2 separate regions of the Homo sapiens genome follow, and region 1 is linked to region 2. A link means that fine-mapping ties the variant in region 2 to the expression of a gene that starts in the linked region. Tissue or cell type: subcutaneous fat. Region 2 holds a variant in brackets; the other region holds the start of a gene. All regions are shown on one strand. Distances are between the middles of the regions.

Region 1 (4,398 bases), 39 kb after region 2:
ACTAAAGGTCTTGGGACTACACACAGTGTTCCATGCCTCTGGGCCCTTGCGTTACTTTGTGTCACCTGTCACCTCCCCCTATTCACCTGGTTGACTCCAAGCATCCTTGAGGACCCAGCTCAGGCACCTCCTTTTCTAGGAAGTTGTTCACTATAATAATCAGGGTGTTGCCCCGATGCCATCATACAGCTCATATTCAGTGCACAGTCAGTATTTGTTGAGGGAGAGAAGAAAGCAGGGGGGAAATACTCTACTTAATCATTTAGAAGGGTTGCCTCAGGCAACCAGAATTCAAAGGCAGGAATAGTGCTATACCGCTAGCCATAAAATGGACCCACGCAAAAATACACTTTGAAGTAGAAAGACTATAAAAGGAATGAAGATCAGAATAGCAACAAGAGCAATATCTTAGATTTGTGTGATTTTACAATTTATAAATTATTGTTAGAACTCATCATGTTTACAGCACAGTGAGGTGGGTGCTGGTATTCTCATTTACAGATAAGGAGACCAGGGATCAGGGAAGGATTTGCTTACCCCTAAGGGCCTGCAGTGACAGAAAGATCCTTTGGCTCTCTATTTGGTTCCTACCGCACCATTTCACAGCTTGCCTAAAATGAGACAAATTGTAAGATATTAATAAGAATTCACTTTCAAAATTCTATATACTTGCTGCTCTATTTTAAACATATATTTCTCTTAAATTATGCTATGCTAATTAGCTCTACCATTTCCAGACAGTAATCTGTTATTGGGTGCTACTTTTTAAATTTAGATGCCACTACTAAATCCTAATTTAGACTCATTCCTTTTAATAACATCTATGCCTTCTAATGTGTTCCACCCTCCATTGCTTCAAAACATGAGAGTTTATAATGTGTTATATTCATTCCATTATATGGATAGAACTCTACCTTCAGGAAATTCTAGTTTAGCTCTTCATTTTAAAGACATTCCTTGCACATATATTTGGGATCCTTACCTTGATGCTTTTTCTGTCTCCTTTGATAAATTCCTCCTTTGTCACACTGCACTGTTTCTCTGAGGTCTTGTATTAGAATAGCCCCTTAAGAATAAGGAACTGTTGTAAATTGCTTTGTAAACAGGTTGCCAGCCAACTCCAAAATGTATTTCCTGTCTTCTCTTTTCACCCAAGTGGGTAATAACTGTGTTGTAACCTGGAGACAGTCAGTAGTTACTAACCACCTAGTATGTCAAATTACCAGGTAAGGTTATCCAGCAAAAGGGGCTCACTGCACTAGAAGCCAACACTATGACACCAAGTTTTTGAGAAAAGGAAAGCTTCACATTGCAAGTTAACTTCTGAGGAAACAAAAGTCCAGTTCAAATCTGTCTTGTACTGGCTTTAGGGCAGTAATTTTATTACAAAAGGTTTAGGGTTGGATCCTGGGGTTAGCAGGTGATTGGTGGAAGCAAAGGGAACATCTGGGAAGTCTTCAGGCATGCATGGCTCTCTCTTCATGCTTCCTGGTGGGTCCCATGTGCAAATTTGGAGGGAGTTGGTATGAAACATGCAGTAGAAATTCAGGCTGTGACATCAGCAAGCTTGCTGTGCGCAAACTGCATTTGGCCATATTGATTCCGGCTGATTTCAGTCAGTTTTGTTATAAGCAGAGGGAGTTTCAGCAAATTGTTTCTTTTCTTATCTGCCCCTGAAAACAAGAATTTCTGTTAGTTATTGGTGTCTTTGACTCTTTGAAACAGTTTCAGTAGTTCCCAAGATATGAAGATAAAAGACCCCCTTCATCAGTGAAAACTCTTACAAGGGGATGAAAGACACAGCTTCCTCTATGAGAGCACAAGAACAATTAAATTGACCCTCACAAACACTATGGTTGGTGCCAGGAACGTGGCCTGGTGAGGAGGACAGTGTCACATCCTCCCTGCCCACTCCTGTTTCCACGCGTGCATTTCCTCTTCTGCCCCTCTCCTAAGCCAGGATGACCCTTCTGACCGCGTGGAACTATCACAGAAACTGCTTCCATTTATACCAGATGACTTGGGATTCAGTCTTCTTGCTTGGTTTTTATTGACTGCAAAAATCCATGACAACTTTGCGCACATTTGCTTAAGCTGAAAGCAAATGGATGAAAGTTTGTAGTTGAAAATCTACTTTCTCTTCAATCTCTTCCCTTTTTGCTTTTCTTAGGAAACATACAAGACAGTGGTCCGGAAAGCTCACTGCAAGAACTGTACAAATAATGTAAAAGTAAGGCATCCATAAGATCAAAGCCACATTTCTTTGCTCTCTGCACCCCATTCCCGCGCCGGCCAGGTTAAGCCTCCTGCGTGGCCAGCACCCCTTGGCAGGGGCAGAACTCCCTGGAACCCGATCCTTGTCTCCATGGCGACGCGTCACAAAGCAGCCCGCGGCTCCCGCAAGCGCTGAGATAGCTGGAGCCAGGGCCCCGCGGCCGCCTCCTGGGGCAGAATGGAACAGCCTGGGCCCAGGGCTCCGGATCCCTCTCTCTGCCACCACAACCTCCAGCCAAGTAAGACAGCAGACTCTGCCGGTCTGCGGGGCGGGGCTGGGGTCTTTCCCGGGGAAAGGGTCCTGTTGAGAAAAAGGGGCCTTAGTATTTAAGGGTGTGGCATCGCTCTTAGGAGTATGCTCAACTGAGGAAAAGACGGGGAGTCAGGGAGAATGACAGGGCCTTCATGACGCTGCCCCTTTTCAGTCCTTCGCATAACCTTTGCCAAATCCCCGCTCCCTAAAACGCGCAGGGTTTTTAAACACTCGAGGAAGTGCCTGGCTAAGAGGGGACAGGAAAAAAGGAAGAACTGGTGATTTTCCAAGGAAAACAGGGCCAAAGGCAAAGAAGAAAGAGAAGTCCTGGAAGCTCTGAAGAGAACAGGTCCTGCCTGAGTCCCGATCCCCATATAGGATCTTGGAAACAGCAAGGAAAGTGGGGGAAGGGTTGGCTGCTGAATGGAGTCCCAGCTGTGTCTGCAGAGGCAGACGCCCTCCCTGGGCTGTCGCACCAGGCTGGGAGCCATGGCCTTCAGCTGCCGCCTCTAACCTGAATTGATTTTTCTTCCACAGAGATTTTGTATTTCACAGAGGTAGTGCTTTTCATCCTAATTCTGCCCACAGATGCAGCAGGTTCACCAGTTCAGCCTTTTGGGTCTGTGGAGGGAGAACCACTCTAGCTGTGACGCTAGTGGCATGATTACCGTGTAGTCAGCTCCATCATAGTCTCTTGTGGCAATAATTGGCCATTGCTGCTGTATAGTTGGGTAACTGTGATTCCACAGTGGCTATGGAGCAGTGAAGGATTGTTCAAGTACAAATTCCCTAGAATTGTGCTCCCAAAAGAGTGAATGAAATGCATATTTTCATTCCAATTCATTCCGTTGTAAATTAAGAATGGAAAATGAAAATACTTAATTAGTGCAGAAAATATCTAATACACTCAGTTTCTATATGATGGGAAGGCAAACAGGAGAGACAGAGGAGGGAGGATCCCCTCCTAGCATCCCGACAGCACCCCTTTGGATGCTTCTCTTCCCTTTCTAACCACCCTGTTTTCCCACTGTCTCCCCATTTCATCCCCTTCTTGTCTGGGAACTGTTGGAGTCCCCCAGGATTGATCCTTCTAGGCTTACCTTCTCTTTGTGACCATATCCTGCACAGGGCTTCAAGTGCTGCATAAAGGTGCCAACAACTCTCTAACCTTTATCTCTGACTTGGACTTTCTTCCTACTTTTTCAGACCAGAATATCTAACTGTCTACCAGACAGTTCCATGTGGGTGTCACAGCAGGGCCTCCAACTTGACATGTGCAAAATCACACTCCTTGTCCTCCTCAAACCTTCCAGACTTTGAGAGTTCAGTTAAGAGGGTCCTAGCTGCTCAATTTAGAAGGGAAGGCAGCTTCCTTGAGACTGCAGTTTGATCACCAGGTCTCTTTGATTCTGCCTCCAAAGCTCTTTTTCCCCCAGGTGAATTCGCCCCTTTACCTCCAGGCTTGGGCCTCTAATGGCTACTCTGTGCCACTTCATTCCCCACTGCTGGGAGAGTCACCCTCCAAATGGTAGGCTTGATGTGTCCCCACTGCCCAGGTTTGGTCCGAAATAGGATGAGGTTGATGGTGACTGATGACTAACTGTTATTGAATAATTACTACAGATGGGGCTCTCAGGTGTTGTATTAGTTTCCTGTGGCTGCTATGTGTTCCCACAGACTGGTGGATTCAAACAACAAAAATGTATTTGCTCACAGCTCTGAAGGTCGAGAGCCTGAAATCAAGGTCTGGACAAGTCTGCACTCCCTCTACAGGCCCTAGGGGAGAAGTGGTCCTTACGTCTTCCAGCTTCAGGTAGCCATCGGCACTGCTAGTGATGGCAGTGGCTGCTGCCATCATGCTGGCTGCAGCA
Region 2 (4,398 bases):
AACGATTATAGTATTTACATGTCAAGTCCTGCCATGACTTGTTAGGGAGGGTCCTTGTTTTTCAAATCTCTCTCTCTCTTTTTTTTTTTTTTTTTTAAGATGGAGTCTCACTCTTGTCACCCAGGCTGGAGAACAGTGGCGCAATCTTGGCTCACTGCAACCTCTGCCTCCCGGGTTCAAGCGATTCTCCTGCCTCAGCTTCCTGAGTAGCTGGGATTACAGGCGCCGGCCACCACACCTGGCTAATTTTTGTATTTTTAGTAGAGACGGGGTTTCACCATGTTGGCCAGGCTGGTCTTGAACTCCTGGACCTCAGGTGATCCACCTGCCTCGGCCTCCCAAAGTGCTGGGATTACAGGCATAAGTCACTGCACCTGGCTGTTTCAAATCCCTTTTCTATTGCATATATCCACAGTTTCTGCCGTATTTGCCTTGAGAATGGGGACCTCTGAGGTAGAAAGTCATGCCAATTGTTTCATGTTGTGATAAGTACTCAGTACCATCTGAATACCTCACAAATATTGAATTATATTCTTCTCAATGTCTAAGTCTCTCTCTGGCTGTATGTTAGAATGTCCTTTCATTCAAATCTTTTGGGGACCATTAGGAGTTGAATTTTACTATTTTAGCATGTATTATAGTAGATCAAAAATCCATACTTCATGAGTGAGGCAATATATAGATTTGAGATTCTATCAGATTGCAAAGTAACAAGAAAGTAGAAGGAGGATCACCCTGTGGGAATGAGGGACCAGCTAACCAAGCAGTCAGAGAAAGAGCCTGAATTGTAGTTCCCCAGGGATGGAATGAAAGAAGACACAACCAAGAAATTTAGCTCTTTAGATCTAATAGAAACCTCAAAGAATTAGATTCCAAGAATTGATGGATGAAAATTGTTTCAGGATTTAAAAAACTCAGCAAGGTTCCATTTCCTCTTTTCATCCTTGAGTACTGGAAAGAGCAAAAGCTTTTGAGTGAGACAGAGCAGGGTTCAAATCCTAACTCCAACAATTTAGGCAAGTAACCTGCTCTCTCTGAGAGTCATTTTTCTTATCTAGAAAATGGATAGTATTTACCTTAATAGGTCCAGGCATATAGGAAATGATAGCTGTTATTCTGTACTTTTTATATAAGTAGGACAAACTTAGAGTCATGAAAAAAAGTGTTGTCACACTTATTTTTTTTTTGCTTTTCTTAGAAGAAAAAAAGGGTATATCTTCAAAGTGTTCAATAGCACAGAAAGAAAAAAGAAAATGAAGGGCACATTTTGTAGAATCAAGATTTTTTCCTCAAATTCAATCATAGCCCCATAATGAGCTAATGAGGGTGGGACATTGCTCTCTTGTATCTCTCATTGCTACATTTACTAGCTTTCATCTGAGAAAATGAGGGAAGCTTTAGTTCACATACTTGAATACTGTTCCAAATGTCTCACGTTTCTGATAATGTCCTTCAGGACCCTGAGCAAACTAACTATAAAAAAGATGAATGACTGTGGATTATTCAGTAGGTTCTTGGTATCCTTTCAGAAATGTTAAGAACAGCTCCTTAACTCTTCACTCATAAACTTGGTGTTGTTTCCCCTTGGGTAATTTCTCTCATCTTTGAAGTTGAGTCCCATCAGTTGTCAGTGGCATGATTTATTCACGTCCAGGGCCAATGGAAGAAGCACAAGGGTGGGAGGCTGTTAGCTCTCGCCAGCGCCCCCTCTGGCCACTCCGGCAAAGGCCGCCAAGTGACAGCACACTGAATTCCTGTGCAAGGCTCTGGTGTGGGTGGAGGCGGCTCTGAGCAGAGCCCAGAATGTTGGAACAAGAGTGGGGTGGCCTGGCTTGCTGCTTCTGAACCTATCTCATCCTCACTACTCTGATTAGAGAAAAAAAAAAGGGAGAAGGCTTGCAAGTACTGTGCAATAGAGGTGGTAGTTTTACATAAATCTAAAAAATTTGGCCTGAGGTTTATGGAGAATCAAAACAACTTAAGGAATGCATTTTTTTCATATAAAATACCTGATAATTAACCTCTTCTTACTTTTTAAGTTATTAAACTTGAATCTTGGTGGGTCTTTTTTTTTGGCAGTATTAAGTCAAATCTGTGATATGTATAAAGTATCACTGACATGCTCAGAAAATACCTTTATCCTACACCACCCCCAATGGCTCCCAAGTGTGTGACTTAGTGAGTTCATCAGTTCAAATCAAGGAAACTTATTGCCGAGTATTCTCCCTTCTTGGGAGAACTCAAATGTTTCATTCCTGTGTCTCACTTCTTTCTCATCCTGAAGCTGAATTTAGTCATAATTGTTATACTGCTATAGCATT[T/C]GACACTTTTCGAAACATGTTTATTCACAATATTACAAGCAGAGGAGATTTCACTGTTTTTGCTTTTTAGAGGAGAACATTGGTATTCAAAGAAATAGACAAATTTTTGGGGCCGGGTGCGGTGGCTCACGCCTGTAATCCCAGCACTTTGGGAGGCCAAGGCGGGCGGATCACGAGGTCAGGAGATCGAGACCATCGTGGCTAACACGGTGAAACCCCGTCTGTACTAAAAATATAAAAAATTAGCCGGGCGTGGTGGCAGGCGCCTGTAATCCCAGCTACTTGGGAGGCTGAGGCAGGAGAATGACCTGAACCCAGTAGGCGGAGCTTGCAGTGAGCTGAGATCGCACCACTGCACTCCAGCCTGGGCAACAGAGCAAGACTCTGTTTCAAAAAAAAAAAAAAAAAGAAATAGACAAAATTTTGTTTAATCTATCTATTACAGTCTTGGATACTGATAAATTTATAGAATCACTGAGTCTAGAGAAGAAACCACACATATCAGCTTTTTAGTTGCAAGTTAATTTTGAGATAAGTTCAATCTTAAAAAATCAAATTATAAATGCATTGGAAGAAAATTTTTAAAAATATTGTTATGATTTGGGGGAAAATAGAGAAAAACTTTATAACTGGGGATCTCAGGACAAAGTCATAGTGAAAAATATTGCTAGACTCAAGGGCTTAAAACACACACACACACATACACACAGATTCAAAATTTCTGAATGGTAAAAAATATATTCTGATATATTTTGGAATTTATCAAGCAGAAAGGCAAATGATAAAAATTTTAAAAGGTAACATGTTTAATATATAAAGAGTTCTTGCAAACAAATAAGGAAAAGATGTCTCCATATGTTAACAATGGATCTAAATTGCAAATTCACAGCAGAAAAAATAAAAATGGCCAATAAACATAAAAAGTTTTAACCTTCCTGGTAACAAATTAAAAAAATTAAAACAATAAAATTCTCCAACGTGGTGGGGAAAAATAAAATAGAATAATAATACACAGTTTTGGCTAGGACTTTGGGAAATAGGTAACTTCCTGCTATGGTTTTGGGAATTTTAGTTTGGAGATCAGTTTGACATTATGTATCAAAATCCTTGAAAAAGAGCATAATATCTGATCCAGGTTAGGGGTGAATTATCAGCCAGTAATTGGACAAGTTGCCAAAGATACAAGTGCAAAAATGTAAATGGCGGTATTTTTATTTTAATCATGAAAAATGAGAAACAACTTAAATTATTGGTAATATGGGGTCATAGATGTCATAATTAAGCCATAAAAAGAAAGGCTACCAAATACAGTACCATGAATAGTTTGATGTAATTTTATTCAGGAAAAATGCACACATATTAGTAAATACACACATATATAAATATATGTCATAGTGTACATACAAATTATATATATTTCTATGTGTGCATGCATATGTGTGTATATATATGGAGAGAGAGAGACAGTGCCAGTCTTGGTTCTCAGTGCTTTACATATAACAATTCATTTAATCCTCCCTACAACCCCAAGAAGTGAGTGCTGTAATAAACTCCATTTCACAAATGAGGAAACTGAGGCGGAAAGAGGGAAGCACTTGCCTAAAGTCACACAGCTAATGAATGGCAAAGCCAGGATTCGAATCCAGATATTGAGGCCCCTAAGTCTTCCGTCCTAAGCACCAACCCAGCTGCCCTGGGTGACATAGGGAGCTCTATGCCCTCTGCTCTAAACAGATAGACAAAGGCTTGGGGGACGCACAGTAACTGGCATTCAGTGCTTACCTCTGGGTGGTGGGATGATAGAGGGGACTTCTGTTTATTATTTGAAAAAATTAAATCAATACTTTCTGATTTTTCTGCACTTACAAATCACTTAGTGGTGAAGCAAAACAAGTGTTTTTGTTTTGTTTAGTTTTTGAACTACAAAGTTTAGAAAACATGGATTTCTTCCCTTGTCCCGGTAACTTACAGGCCAAAATAGGATTAAGGGAGGGCTGGCCTAGCTTTCCCCACTCCATCTCTCTGCTAAGCCCTTGATTGTGAAGCCTCACAAAGACACAAAATGTGTGTGGGGGGT

Direction of the effects. Positions count from the first base shown, and alleles are read on the strand shown. Sizes are in standard deviations (SD) of each study's normalised expression.
For the expression in subcutaneous fat of the gene that starts at base 2,345 in region 1, allele C in region 2 goes with a lower level than allele T (small effect, 0.28 SD a copy in GTEx).

What was found. PIP is the estimated chance that this variant, and not a neighbour inherited with it, causes the effect. A credible set is the group of variants that fine-mapping cannot tell apart.
Region 1: TEX26-AS1 starts here. The variant in region 2 is the best candidate, but not a certain one, in a credible set for the expression of TEX26-AS1 in subcutaneous fat (GTEx, PIP 0.65).

The regions. Positions count from the first base shown.
Region 1 is chr13:30,930,264-30,934,661 of GRCh38, forward strand. TEX26-AS1 (TEX26 antisense RNA 1) reads right to left here and starts at 2,345. Exons shown (of 4, transcript NR_038287.1): 1 at 983-2,345; 2 at 538-611. TEX26 (testis expressed 26) reads left to right here and starts at 2,393. Exons shown (of 7, transcript NM_152325.3): 1 at 2,393-2,513. The coding sequence starts at 2,453.
Region 2 is chr13:30,891,453-30,895,850 of GRCh38, forward strand. The region is part of intron 2 of TEX26-AS1 (TEX26 antisense RNA 1); the gene reads right to left. Among named protein-coding and RNA genes, the nearest start is that of LINC00545, 11 kb to the left of the region's middle. The variant T/C (reference allele first, on the strand shown) is at 2,322.